Regions from separate parts of the Homo sapiens genome. Here region 1 is linked to region 2. Evidence: fine-mapped expression QTL. Tissue or cell type: whole blood. Region 2 holds a variant in brackets; the other region holds the start of a gene. All regions are shown on one strand. Distances are between the middles of the regions.

Region 1 (6,407 bases), 100 kb after region 2:
GACTCATTGGGTCTCTGGGTCTACGCCATGATGGTCCAGGAGCATATACATTGACTTAGGAGAATCCTATGCTCTTTGAAAGGAAACAGCCTGTTGACGCAACAATGTGTACAACACGATCCCATTTTGTAAGACATGCACGCGTAAGGTGCGTGTGGATGTAAGACGCTATGATGGCTCCGGGTGAGAAATGTATTACAGGACTCTGGCTGGAAGGGATTGTGGGGATTTAATATTCCTTTTTGCTTTCAGATTTTCTGGGTTTTCTATGATGCATTTACATTCCTTATGTAATGAGAAGAATCTGTTTTTTAAGCCAAATTACAAAGTATATACATCAATTTCTTGATATTGTTTTTGTCACATAAATGCTCAGTGACTTTACAAATTATTCTCTACTTTCATCAAGGTTCCAGCCATGAGTTTATCTTGACCTTTGCTTCTGATTCTCTTTAACTATCTGGACATTTAACCAAAGAACAGCATCCTTTAGAAGATAAAAGCCCCATGAGGATGGGTCCCAGGCCCAGTATGGAGCAAACTCAACCCTTCAACCCAGAGGAGGCTGGGAGGAGAGGATGCAGGGCTGGCAGGTGGCAGTGGGGGGACAATGCCTGTTGATTGAGAGATCAGTCAATCAGTTTCTCTTCAGAGGGAGGGTGGGCAAGGAGGCGTGGCAACTTTCATAAATAGACATAATCAGGGAAGGCGGCTGGCGGGGTTGCTCTGCAGCAGAGCAAAACAAGAATTCCGTATTTTCTTTCTTCTTTTTTTTTTTCTGTTTCTTTCTTTCTTTTTTTTTTTTTTTTTTTTTTTTGAGACAGGGTCTCACTCTGTTGCCCAGGCTGGATGGCAGTGGTGCAGTCTTGGCTCACTGCAACCTCCGCCTCCCGGGCTCAAGTGATCCTCCCAACTCATCCTCCTGAGTAGCTGGGATTACAGGCACAAGCCACCATGTCCAGCTAATTTTTTGCAGAGATGGGGTTTCACCATGTTGGCCAGGCTGGTCTGGAACTCCTGGAGTCAAGCGCTCCACTGGCCTCAGCCTCCCAAAGTGCTGAGATTACAGGTGTGAGCCACTGCACCCAGCTGAAGCCCCTATTTTCATGACTTGAGCTTGGCCTCCACAGACCTCTGACATTTGGGCTGAGAAGAGACCAGAACTGACCAGTCACTGTATACATGTCCTTCTAATGACCCAGGAGGGCTGGACGCCTCTGCTGTTAGCCCTTCTGTACATCCCCCATAACGGGCACACACACGCATGTGCACACACACAGCCTTGGGGCTCCCAGTATCTGCGGGCCTCTCCTCCAGCCTATGGGAGGGATGGAACAGGGGGTGGTCCTCGGCTCTGCCAGGATCTCTCCTCCCTGCCCCAGACACCACCCACTCTGGCTTCCCTGTGCTGCAGTGGTGTCCAGTTCACTGGGCTCCCAATTCCGGCCCTCCACCCAATGCCTCCACCCAGGCAGGGCCTCTAGGTGGGGCCGCGGGCAGCTCCAGCACTGCTAAGTTGCAAGGGACCCTCCCTCATTTCATGAGCACTGTGTGCGGCAGCCCTCCCTCTGGCTTCACTCCTTGCGGGGCTGTGAAGCAGGAGGCCAATGTCTCTTTTGCCTGCAATAACCCTCCCTCTGCCAAAGGCAATAGCCTCTGCTTCCCAGAGGCCACACAGAGCCAGACAGGGCGCTGCCCCTGGGGAGTGGAGGTGTGAGGCCCCACTGCCATTTCCACCTTCCTCCTCTTCTGGTCAGCTCCTGGGACGGGGCTGGAATGCACGGCTTGTTAGCCAGAATGTGTGTGAAGGGCAGCTGTCTCCTTCCTCCTCCCCACCCCTCAGCTGGTCCAGCAGGAGCCCAGGGGATCTGCTGGGGAGAGGGACTGGGGCCGAGCGGGGCCAGATGTGAGTGCACAGGGCTTGGAAAAGCTCAGACAACTCTACTCATGTTTGTTACTTGGAATTGAAACCTACGCATGTTCTGTCTGCCCAAGGTTTCTTGGGGGCTGTTTTTCTTTCTTGGGGGAGGAAGCAGGCATTGGGACCCTCAGATCATGGATCTTACTGTCTTTGGACCAAGTCTGTGCTCTAGAAGATGAAACTGATGGCAAGTGCTCCTCCCAGGAGCACTGTGTTGGGGGTAGGCTGATGGCATTTGCATTCCGTCCCTCCCATTTTAAACATAAGCCATCCCAGACCAAAGAGGCAAAGGAAGGAATGGATATCAGAGCGGGAAGAGGCCCCGGGCACAGTTTTCCTACACAGGGCACTGGCTCAGCTGCAGGGTTGCTTTGTTTGGGAATTGCATGTCAGCCCCTTTGGTGACCACTTTCTGGGCCCCAGATCAGGCAGAGAAGAGAATCCCACCTCAGACTGCCAGCCAGTGTACTCCAGCAGGTGGGGATCCTGGGACTGAGGCAGGGCTCTGAGAGCTTGAAGCACATGGGCGAGATGTGGAAGCCACAGTGACCTGTGGATGAAGCCCAAGGAGACTGGACCTCAACTTGCAACTCAAAGAGGGAGGTCTTGCTCTAACAGGGAGGTGTCACCCTCTCCACTAACCTCTTGGCAATCATGATTTACTTCCAGACAATTTCACCCAAGGCACTTAGAAGGGCAGGTTCAGAGCCAGGGATCTGCTTCTAGATTCTGCATTTTAGAGCTGGAAAAGCCCTCAGCCATCTGTGCCCTGCAGCCCTGTGCCCTGGGGCCATCTGCGCCCTGCAGGCCTGGCTCTCTGCAGGAATGCAGGGAACACAGAAGCCAAGGGCTCCCATCCTAGCTCCTCTGCGTATTGGTTTCTTGGGGGAACTTGGCTCAATTACCTGACCTCATTCAGCCTCAGGTACATGACCTCTAAGATGGGAAGGTGGGTAGCTGCTGGTCACCCAGGATCACTGTGAGCCTCCCGTGAGATAATGCATGTGGCATGACTTTATGAACAAGGTCACTCAGGGGAGCTGGTGGCAGTCTGATGAGAAAAAGCATCCCCCAGCATCTTCTGACTCTGCCTGGCAGCCAGGTAAGGGGGTGTCCAGGTTCCCAAGGCCTCCCTCCTACCTAGCCAGTCTCAGAAACAAAGCTGTTTGAAGTTCCCTTTGTAAAAGGCAATCGCGAATGCACTCTAGGGCTGATATCAGGACCCTGGCTCTTCAATCCTTCTCTGGAGATCAGAAGGACTCCATTAATTCCTCCTCTGAGTGGGTAGCACGAGCCTCATTTGCTGCTACCAAGTCAGTTTCTCTGGGTACCCGCATCTAACTCTGCAGGGTTTATGGCTTTTCTTTGGATTACCTCACTTTAAACTCATCAAAACCAAGGAAAAAAATCACATGAGTGTGGCCCTTCTCCAAAGAGAGAATCACTAAGGAGGTTTTAAATGTTTTCCTCCTCTAACTGTACTTAGTTAAGCTAAATCATAACCCAAAGCTGGACAGAGACAGATATTTTAGAAATAACCTCTCCCCACATATATCCCACCACTGGCACATGCACACGCACAGACATGCACACACACACACATGCACACACACACACATGCACACACACACATGCACACACACACATGCACACACACGAAGCCATGGAGAGGAGCTGTCACCTGAGCCATCTGCACCCTGAGTAGGCTCTTGAGCTGTGACATGAGTCAGGTGGAGTAGCCACCAAGGCAATAGCTTCCCTCTGGCACCCCAAATGCAGGCTCACATTCTCTCCAGCCCAGGCAGTTGGATGAGGGCCCGGCAGATATCTGCGGGCCCAGCAGGCGGGGACCTTCCCACCTGGAGAAGGCACCTCCAGGCTCTAGGTCTGAAGTTTCCCAAACTCTGTACTCCTCTCCATCCAGTTCACTCCAGTCTCCTCCAGCTGTCTTTGAGACAGCATGCCCAGGAGATAGGACAAAATTAGTACCAAGACTCACCTGAGTGCCCCTGGCTGAGGCTGTAGAGCCTTGTCCCCTCAGATCTCAGCATTTGCCATGGTGGCCAGAGAGCTGGCTGCCACCACGCTGAGAGCCAGGCCGCCCCTCGGACCGCGTCCCCACAGCCAGCCAAATCCAGATGGAGTCATAGAAAGGGGCTGCAGGGGCGCCCAGGGACGAGTCTCAGAGCAGGACCACAGGGGCCACTTCTGCAGGAGGACCAGGTCAAGATGCAACCTGTGGCAGAGTGGGGGTCTGGGCCTGGGGGACCCAGAATGGGGGGTGTGCGCCTGGGACTCCCTGTCCTTGGTGCCTGGTCCTGGGTAGCGATCAGGAGATGTTCTGAGGAGGCACCGGCAGCTCCTCTAGGTACTGCCTGAGATGCGAACTGCAGCTGCTCTCGCCGCCAGTCCGTATAAAATAAAGTTCTTGGAGCAGTTGCGGAGGCTTCTGCAATGGGGTCTGGAATACGGCCCCCCTCCTGCGGCCAATCGTGGCATTACAGCCCCGTGTGGGAACGCCCGCTGGGCCCAGAGCAGCGCGGTCGGCCTTGGCCTTGGGACTCCAACACCCCAGTCTAAAGGTCCTGCTCAAAATACTTTTTGGAAGACTTCTGGGGGAGTGGCAGCTAGACCTGGCTTATGAGCCACGCAAGAAAACCAGTCTTGTAAATTTATTTATAGCACAGAATTGGCATGGCTCAATTCATTCACCAAGCTTGGCACAGAGTTACTTCATGTATTTTCCTGGAGTCACATTCATCCTCAGTGGACACGGATTGGCCACACTGGGGGTAGTCAGGAAAATGCCCCAGGGGGTTCCACGGAACTCAGCAGCAGAATCAGCGTTTCTGGCTCATTAACGCTGCACAGGGGCTGGGGGGTGCAGGATGAAGACTAGCTGGCTGTCCATAGCAATTCAGTATGGGAGGGGGACCCAGGCACGAATAATCCTAAACCTGAGCATGATTGCTTACGTTTGAAAAAGGACATCTAGGCCGGGTGCAGTGACTCACACCTGTGGTCCCAGCACTTTGGGAGGCTGAGGTGGGAGGATTGCTTGAGCCCACCCACAAGTTCAAGACCAGCCTGGGCAACATAGTGAGACCCCATCTCTAAAAAAAAAAAAAATCTCTTTAAAGGCAATCTAACCATATGTGAAGGGAGCTGCTAAATTCAGATTGAGGTGGTAGTATCAGGGGCATCAGAGAAATCACCATAATTGTCCAAGCCAGGGTGGCAGAGTTAGGCTATGCAGATGGCTTCCAGAGGACAGCACCCAGAGGTAACATTCATGAATGCATTCCTGTTTGTTGGTGAAAAGTTCAGCCTCAAGACTCCAGGGTCAGGCTTCGTACATGAAAAGTGTTTGCCAAGACTCAGCTGTGTCACTGCAGCTGCCCGCCCACAGCTGAGTCAGAAACGCCGTCCTCATTCTCAGTGACTGCCCTGCCTGACTGCCTAGGAAGCAGCTCCAACATCAAACTCCATTTTACAGAAAGAACAAATGATAATTGTATCATTATGGTAATAATCCCAGGGAGCGGAGGAGGAGAAGGAAAAGAAGACAACACTTTATAGCATATACCATGTGTTTCTTATATATTAGCTCATTGAACCTATTCAACAACCCCCTGAGGCAGGTGCTGCTATTATGCTCATTTACAGAGACAGAGAGGAAGTGACTTGTCCAGGGTCTTGTAGCCAGTAAGTGGCAGAGCTAGTATTCAACCCTAGGCAATGTGATCCTAGGGTCTATGCTCTTAACCCCTCCCCTGTACCATTGCCTCTCAAGGGGAAACAAATGTTTTTGTCCCCCATCAATTCACCAACATTCCTAGGAATGTAATCTTAAAAACAGCCAGAAATGTGCTCAAAATATGATGTCCAACCAGCCTGGGCAACATGACAAAACCCTGTCTCTACAAAAAAAAAAAAATACAAACAATAGCTGGGCGTGGTGATGCACACCTGTAGTCCCAGGTGCTTGGGAGGCTGAGATGGGAGGATCAACTGAGCCCAGGAGTTTGAGGCTGCAGTGAGCTGTGATCGCACCACTGCACCCCAGACTGGGTAACAGAACAAGATCCTGTCTTAAAAAAAAAAGTGATGTCCAAAGACCTTCCCTAAAGAGATGTGTATGTTAGCAAGAAATGTGGTAGTTAGTGTCCCCCTAAATTCAAGCATTGGAAATGTAATCTTTATTGCAACAGTGTTGGGAGGTGGGGCCTTTGTGGGGGTATTTGAGTCATGAATGTATTTGGGATGCCGTAGAAAGGGCTTGCAGGAGTGGGCTGGCTTGATCCTCTGCCTTTCTGCCATGTGAGGACTCCACGCTCATCCTCGCTTGTCCTCCCACCTCCCGCCCTGTTCGAAGCACTGAGTCCTATTGCGTGATAGGCACATACCACACACAATGTGTATATCGGTCTCCTGCTGAAGGGGGTTTGGGATGTTTCCAATCTTTGTCTATTATGAATAAAGCTGC
Region 2 (8,265 bases):
ATGTAGGCTGCCCTGATTCAGGAACTCAGAGTCTAAATTCAGAAACTTGTGTCTCTGGCCTCCTTTACCCCTGAAGAGGTATAGGGGAGGCAGGCAGGCAGGAGCCTTTCCCAGAGCTGAGCAATGAGGCCACCTCCAGCAACACACTTGGGGAATCACCAACGCCCTCCAACAGTGACTACCCTCTAGCCTGAGAAGGACGTCATCATTTAAGAGGTTTGGGTTTCTGTGGGCAGAGGGTTTAAATGCTGCTTTTTCCCGGCAGTTTCTGCCCCAGGTCAAAGCTTTCCCACCAAGCCACCAACCACCACTGGGAAATGCTCTTGCCCCACAATGTGTCAGCCCCGACTTAATCAGAAGTGGTGACTGAGAGGCAGCCTCAGCCTGGTCCGTGACTTCCCCAAGACTCTTCCTGTCAGTCCAGGGAGTTTTTTCCTCAGATGCCCCCCAGGAGGGTCCCTGCAGGGGGAACGGGGCTACTGGAGTCAGGGAGATGCCTCTCTCTGCACGTGGCAGTGGAGGAAAATGGGAGACAGGGATTCTTGATTGTGTGAAATTCAGAGACTCCTAGGCTCCAAAGCAAGAGCAGATGCTCCAGGTAGAGGGCAAAGGGCAAGAGAGCTGGTGATGAGCAATGGGACCCCAGGCTTTCGAGGTTGCAGCCACGTCCCCTAGTAACTGCCCTTCAATGACTGCGAGGCACCTTCACCTCCTCCTTGGCATCATACCACATTGAGCCCTGGAAAACCCTTCCTGAGCAAATGAGGATCAGCAACCCGGAAGAAAACCCTGCCCCATACCACTCCCGTGTGGGTATCTGATTTGCACCCCTCAGGTGAGGGCGTTAGGTGCAGAGACTATCACACTTTTCCTCTTGTTCTGGATCCCTAACCTGCAGACTGGGGTCTACCTGTCCATGCCTTCATGGTTTGCAAGTTAAGAGGATGGTACTGGCTACAAGGCTGGTCCCTACCAGCTCTGTGCAGGAATGGCACCGGCACATAGCATCACTTGGCTGGAAAACCCAAGCTGAAGGGAAACACCAAGAGCTATTCCTTACTAAAAACAAGGAGAGGCTGTTCTTGACAGCTTATTCCAATCCCCATCCCACAAGGCTTTGGCAGAGCTTTTTCTTGTAATGCCCACCCCTGCCCCCCATAGCAGAGACACCCAGATATCCACAGGGCTCATCTCTGTTCATCTTTTCCCTGCTTCCCCAGAACTGGGGACCACAAGCCCGAGATGGAGCAGGGACTTAGGGGCTGCTAGGCCCCCAAACATGGAAATAAAAGAAAATCTTGAGTATCTTCAAGGGAAATTCTAGGCTAGCCCCAAGAAGTAAATGAGCAACTTGGTAAGAAAGAAAGAAATAGTAGCTTAAAGCAATAGTCAAAGAAGTTAGAGTCAACCTCTGATGACTCTCTATAGAAACTAAAGAGAACATCTTAACATATGTCCCTGAGGTGTTTTTCAGAAACCCAGCTGGATGTTTTTCAGAAACCCAGAACCAAATGGATTTGCTGGCATATAGACCTCAAATGAGGGGAAACTGAGGCCTGAACTCTGATTGACGGACTTTTTTTTTTGAGACAAGGTCTGGCTCTGTCACCCAGGCTGGAGTGCAGTGGCATGATCTCGGCTCACTACAACCTCTGTCCCCCAGGCTCAAGCCATTCTCTCCCGCCTCAGCCTCCCAAGTAGCTGGGACTACAGGGTGCATGCTGCCATGCCCAGCTAATGATTGTGTTTATTCTTTATTCTCCAGTGCCACAGAATAAAGGAAAATTCCAGGCACCTAGCTAGCTCTGAGGACCTGGAAGAAGTCACATCCACAGGCCAGACCTTAATATTCCTTTCTGCTGAACCCAAGTTTTTAGACAAAGTTTCCCTTCCTTAACCAATTGCAAATCAGAAAGTCTTTGAAGCCATGTATGACCTGTAAGCCCTTGCTTCCAGATTTCCCACCTTTTTAGGCCAAACCAATGTATAACATCCATGTCTTGATTTAGAAATTTGCCTGTAACTTCTGCTCTCCTGAAATTTACCATTGCCTTTAAACAGCCTTGCTTGTAAGCCATCCAGGAGGTTGAGTCTTAAGTGTGAGCTACCAGATTTTCTTTGCTTGGTGCCTTGCAAATAAACACCATGCTTCCTCCCACTGCACAACTTCAGTATGGATGTTTGGCTTTACCATGCCAGGCAAGAAGATCCCACTTCGGTTTGGTTACAAGCCCCATCAACACCCTGTGACCAAGGTTCTTCCCTTTGATACAGAGAAGCAGAAAGAGAAAAGTGCTGTCACCTCAAAGCCCAGACCAGAGCATCCCTGCCTGGTTTCACTGTGTAACCCTAGGAGAGGAAAGTGGTTTGAGGGAACACAGGGCAGGAGACTGGCTCCTGGCTGGGTAGCCTCCTTGCTGTCTCCCAGATCAAGGGGCTCATTGTTTCACCCCACAACTTTTCTGGAGTGTCAATTCCAGCCTCGGCTTGGAGCTCTCTGCCTCACTGCAGCCCCAGACCACAGCACCTGCCTCCCCATTCCTCAACCTGTTGTACTGAGCCTGCCCTTCACCCAGGCCCCACCGGGACCAACCCCATGGTCCTCAGCCACCCTCCTTCTACAGGCCCCAAATCTCTCAAAGCTTGAGCTTGTTCCCCAGTAAAGAGGGTACAGCTGAGGCACAGATGAGGCCAGGTCATGGAGAAGATCAAGGCATGGGTCTGGACAAGGAATCTTAGCATTTTCTCAGGATATCACTAGGAACAACTTCCATTAGCTTAGTTGTCGGCAACAGATGTCCCATTACTTAGTGCTTGGAGTGATTTTTCGGTAATTATGACATCATCTTTGGGCTTTTCCAATAATCACAAATGATGGTGAAGCATAGCATTTGCCAGCTGGTAGAGACTTGAAGATGACACAGTCCACACTCTTTGCATGACACGTGTGGGAGCAGAGGCCCAGAGAGGTGACGTGCCTTACCCAAGTCATCCCGTAGCTAGCAGAAGAGCTGGGGCCTGAACTTGAGACTTAGCCCTCGGGCCAGTTCTCCATCTACACCCTCCTTTCTTTCCCAGAATCCTTTCTTCAGAAGATCCCTGAGCATGGTCCACCAATTTGCATCACGACTTTGATGCAAGATGCCTTTTGATGGAGCAGTTACATGAAAAACAATTACTTTAACCCTGGAACTGCAATGCTTCTAACTAAAATTCATAGAAACAGCTTGGTTTCTCCTGAGTCTTATGGGAGAACCAAGAAGACAGGGTTGCCTTTGTGAAGCACAGCCATTGCTGAGTTTGCATTTGAAAATGAACATGTCAACGATTGCACGCAGGGGAAGGATAAACCAGCCTTGGCTTTTGAGGAAAGTGATAATATTTGTTGAAGTCCGGGGTGATTCTACTTCCCGTGCACAGATATGCAGCACTAAAAATGCATTATCTGTATTAATTCTTTATGTATATTTTATCAATGTCTGTGTTTATTTTTTCAATTGCATATTTATTTATCCATCAATTTGCAGGTATGGAATTACTACCACATTCCAGGATTGTGCTAGGCACTAAGGATGCAAGGATAAATAAGTATTGTCTTTGCCCTGGACTCACTCAAATGAACTAAGAGTTTAAAATAGATAAGAAAGACCACAGAATGTCAAAGCTGGCAGAGAACTCAGGGGCTCCAAAACCCTCAGTTAGAAATGAGGAAACTGAAGTTGACAGAGAAGTCACCAGCCATTACTGGGATGCCAGATCCTTCTCTTTTGAGACCACTTCTCTTTCTGATGCTGGCTACTTTCAGTAACAAACCATAATACAGAGAGAAGACAGTTTGAGGTTAAACCAGCAGGGCCCAGGGTGGGGCAGGCTGGCACTCCTAGAACCAGGTG[G/A]CACTGCTCTCCATCTGTGAAGGTTACAAGCACATATACTATTTTCCCTTGGAAATAGAGACCATGTCTTGTTTGTCCATGGCCCCTTAACACTTAACATGACACGTGGCTGGCTGAGGGCCCTAAATGCTGAATAGATGGCGTGGAGGGCAATGGGTAGATGTGTGCGTGACTTTATGAGCAAGCATGATTGGAATCCCCTTCTGAATGCCTCCGGATCCCTGGTTCCAGTCTCAACCTCCAGTGCCTGCATATTCAGAATGGGTGCTGTTCTCACCCACAGATCCCACCTGCTCAGGGTGGGAGGGGTGGGAAAGGTGCTGCCCCAGCACGGAGGCCACAGCTCGCTGTGCACACAGTGACTTGGGGCCTGACCCTGGATTTCATCGATTTGTGCTGCCCTTCTGAAGGTCATTCTATATCCCCGCCTTGCTAATTGATGTCTAAACATGTATCGATCTAGCCTTGGGGACACAGAGGTATTTCACCCTGTCTCTTCTTTGGATGCAAAATGCTGCGAGGCAGTTCCAGGTTGTCCCGGCAGGTGTGGGTCTGAAGCAAGCAGCGTGGTGGGTGAGGGGAGCCCAGGGCAGAGACTGGATGGGCAGGGCCAGTCCAGGCAAGCTACAAGTGCTCTCGCAAGTCTGAGAGGCATTTCAGACTTCCTCATTTCTTCACTGTCCCATGGGCCTCTCAGGGTTGTTGAGGGGATCAGTGACAAAGACTCTGTAGCCAGGTGCTCTCCTGAACCTCAACCTTCCCTCTATAAAGACACAAGACATGTCTGTATAGATGTGAACAGAACTACAATAGGTTTGTTTTTTTTTTGTTTTTTTTTTTAAATGGAGGAGTCTCGCTCTGTCATCCAGGCTGGAGTGCAGTGGCACAATCTCGGCTCACTGCAACCTTCACCTCCAGAGTTCAAGTGATTCTCCTGCCTCAGCCTCCTGAGTAGCTGGGACTATGGGTGTGCACCACCATGCCCGGCTACTTTTTGTATTTTTAGTAGAGACAGGGTCTCACCATGTTGGCCAGGATGGTCTCGATCTCTTGACCTCGTGATCTGCCCGCTTCGGCCTCCCAAAGTGCTGGGATTACAGGCGTGAGACACTGCGCCCAGCCTACTAATATAGTTTCTAATAGCTCAAGATTCCGCTCCTAGGATGATCTGGACCCCCTTAAAGTGCCTGCCTGAGAAAATGCAAGACTACCAAAAGAATTTCCTGTATGTTCCAGCCAACACCTGAAGACAGGGCCCCTGTCCCCCGTGGGATGCAGAAGCCTCACTGTGATAAGCACCAGTTATCAAACCCAGATGGGTTTTACATGAACTAGCTCCTTTCTGCTTTTTGTAATTTTTCACCTCCCTGACTCTACTGAGTCCCCACTCTTCCCTCTCCCTAATCCCTCATTTTCCCTTAAAATACCCGTCACCTCTGTACACATCGAGGTGGCATTCAGTTCATGCTGGACTCCTCCCTGCTGCAATAGTTATCGCTGATTACAATCTGTTCTTATCACTGTAACTAGGGTCCAGCTTTGTCTGTCTTAGACGTCAGATGTGGTTAGAGCGTGGCTCTCAACAGGCTGGTTGGGTGTGTGCCATGCTCACAGCCCATGGGCATTGCCTTCCACGTGGGAAAGACCGTGAATCATTGGCCTGACTCAGAAGTTCTGTCCCAGCCTCTCTGATGAAGATTAGCAGGGCCACCTCTCCCAGCAGTTCACACTGGGGAATACGGAGAGAGCTGAGCAGACACAAAGAGACTGAGAGGCAGGGATGGTGGAATCAATAAGCCATGTTGGAGAAGAGGCCTCCCAGTGAAAAGCTGAGCCAAAGGGCAGTGGCCCCCAGAACGGCCTTGGATTCCGAGTGACCTTCTCATGCCAGGATCCACAAGGCCCACCTGAACTATGGGTCCTGGTTATCCCAAATCTCCTTGCATATCCTCATTACTTGAAATGACCCGGATGAGTCTCTGGTTCTTGGGACTGGAAAAGCCTGAAGAGGGCACCTGTGAATCCCATGCACCCATCTGAGAACTGATCAGCTACTTGCCTCTGTGGGTCCTGGGGAAATTAGGAATTTGCAAGGCATCACACACTGTCATGGTGATTCCTGTGGGGAGATAACTCAGGAGGGTGGAAGGAGGCAGCTGGACTCAGGAGCAGGATTGGAATCTGACTCCACCATAGGCCAGAAGTGACCTCTCCATACCTCACCCTTTTTTTTTTTTTTTTTTTTTGAGACGGAGTCAAGCTCTGTTGCCCAGGCTGGAGTGCAGTGGTGCGATCTTGGCTCACTCAAGCCCCGCCTCCGGGGTTCACGCTATTCTGCCTCAGCCTCCCGAGTAGCTGGGACCACAGGCGCCCGCCACCACGACCGGCTAATTTTTTGTATTTTTTAGTAGAGATGGGGTTTCACCGTGTTAGACAGGATGGTCTCGATCTCCTGACCTCGTGATCCGCCTGCCTGGGCCTCCCAAAGTGCTGGGATTACAGGCGTGAGCCACCGCACCCAGCCTCTCACCTCTTCTTAAAGTGGACATCATGGTGGCGGCTGGGAGCAACAGGGCATGTCAAGGACTTGGCACCTAACGTGAGGTCTCATCATTGTGAGCTCCCACCCCTGGTCAGGTGGCAGTCCTCCCAGCAGCGTGTGGGTCAGCTCCAAGGGTCCCCATGCTTGGGATGGCTTGGACACCAGTGGCCAAGCAGGGATGTATCCTTGAAAGCCTTTTTGCACTCGTAGGAAGCAGGAACAAAAAGGCTCATCCCCTGAATTGAATGAGTCTCCTCCTAACTTCTGTTCTCCCCAGGGCTTGGTTCCTGGCTCCTTAGCATATTAGGACCAGGGCATCCGTGAGGCAGAAGACCGGCTCCTGCTGTCAGCAACTTTCTGTACATTGATGCAAACTGGATGTTATTTGTTAAGCAAGGCAGCTCTGGAATGGCCCAGGAATGCAATGCTAGGGCTGCGACCACGCTTGAGCTCCTAGTGCAGACCTTAGAAATCTACTATGTGGGGATTCTCCTCTCAAAACAAACATTTCTTTGCTCTCTTTGTTTTGTAAATATATATGTCAGACAAGCAAGGTCCCAGGCAAAGCAGGCTGAGTCTTACCCCAGATGCCCCTGAACCCTGGAGCTGGAAGGGGTCTCGGACATTGGCCTTGAACCCCTCCCCTCTACTTCAAACACACAGATCCTCTCCTCTCTGTAGCACACCAGACAGCTGCTCATCCTGCCTCTGGGAATGGAAGGGAACCCGACAGCATCTCTGGGGAATGCATTACAGGATTTTAAAGCCAGGATCTGGTTTCACTTACTCGCCCTGGCATCTCTGGACATCCCAGGGTTTTGCATCTGATTATTCCCTACCTTATTTTACACTGTGTGCTTGGGGATTCATGGCTATCACTGGGGTGTGAGATGAGGAACAGCCTTTTCCTTCTTTCAGCGCAACTGAGCAAGTGGTTTTATTACTCCGCCCCCAGCGGGTTTAGGAGGACTGTGTAGTGGCCAGTGGCTGCCATCTCTCAGAACTGGCTTCCAAGGCTGGGGTAACCTCAGAGCTATCTACTGCCAGCAGGGCTTGGCCACACCTGGCTCAGGGCCATCCCCAAACCCAGCGACAACACAGCCAAGTTCTGGGTACTACCCAGGACAGAGCTCAAGTCAGGCATAAAAAGAGGAGAGAATGATTATCTACTGAGGTCCCGTCGTGCACAGGCTGGGCACTGTGCAAAGTGCTTTGTGCGTGCATTTGCTCATTTCTTCTTCAGAGGAGCTCCATGAGTTAGTTATTACAGCTCATTTAACAGAAGAGAAAACAGGCTCAGAAAAGTCAAGTAAAAATTTGCTCAGGGTCACACAGCTGCCACATGGAAGAGTCAGAGAGAAGGGCAAAGGCTTGTTATTTTCAATCCACAGAGGCGACTCTCAGGCTGAATGCTTAAGACAAATATTTAATAACAGCCCTCTCCAAACATAAAGTGCTTTTCATCCATCTCACAACAGCCCTATGGGGTCTGCCGGATCCACTCTTCTCAGGCTTAAGGGAATGAGTCTTAGACTGAAAGCAGTAGCTCCAGTCTTGACTGTATCTGGGAAGCACCTGGGAAGCTCTGAAACCCACCAGTGTGAGGGGCCAGTTTTAAACAATTCGTAGGTGATTTTGGTGCACAGCCAAGGCTGAGAAGCTCTGTGGGAGAATGTGGATCTGGGATCAAGCCCCGGCTACACAACTCCCTAGTTGTGGGGCCTTGTGAGTAAGGCAGAGAGATGTCACCTCCTCTGGGAAGGCTTCCCTGATTGTGGCCCCAGCATGTGCTCTCCACTAATGAGAAATCCTGCACCATGATTCCCTCTT

Evidence for each region. PIP is the estimated chance that this variant, and not a neighbour inherited with it, causes the effect.
Region 1: it holds the start of SCARA5, and the variant in region 2 is fine-mapped to the expression of SCARA5 in whole blood (TOPMed, PIP above 0.99).

Annotation. Positions count from the first base shown.
Region 1 is chr8:27,988,337-27,994,743 of GRCh38, forward strand. It overlaps SCARA5 (scavenger receptor class A member 5), which reads right to left and starts at 4,337. Exons shown (of 9, transcript NM_173833.6): 1 at 3,921-4,337.
Region 2 is chr8:27,886,489-27,894,753 of GRCh38, forward strand. All of the region lies in intron 7 of SCARA5 (scavenger receptor class A member 5), which reads right to left. Among named protein-coding and RNA genes, the nearest start is that of MIR4287, 4.5 kb to the left of the region's middle. RefSeq lists an enhancer at 6,336-6,922. The variant G/A (reference allele first, on the strand shown) is at 3,894.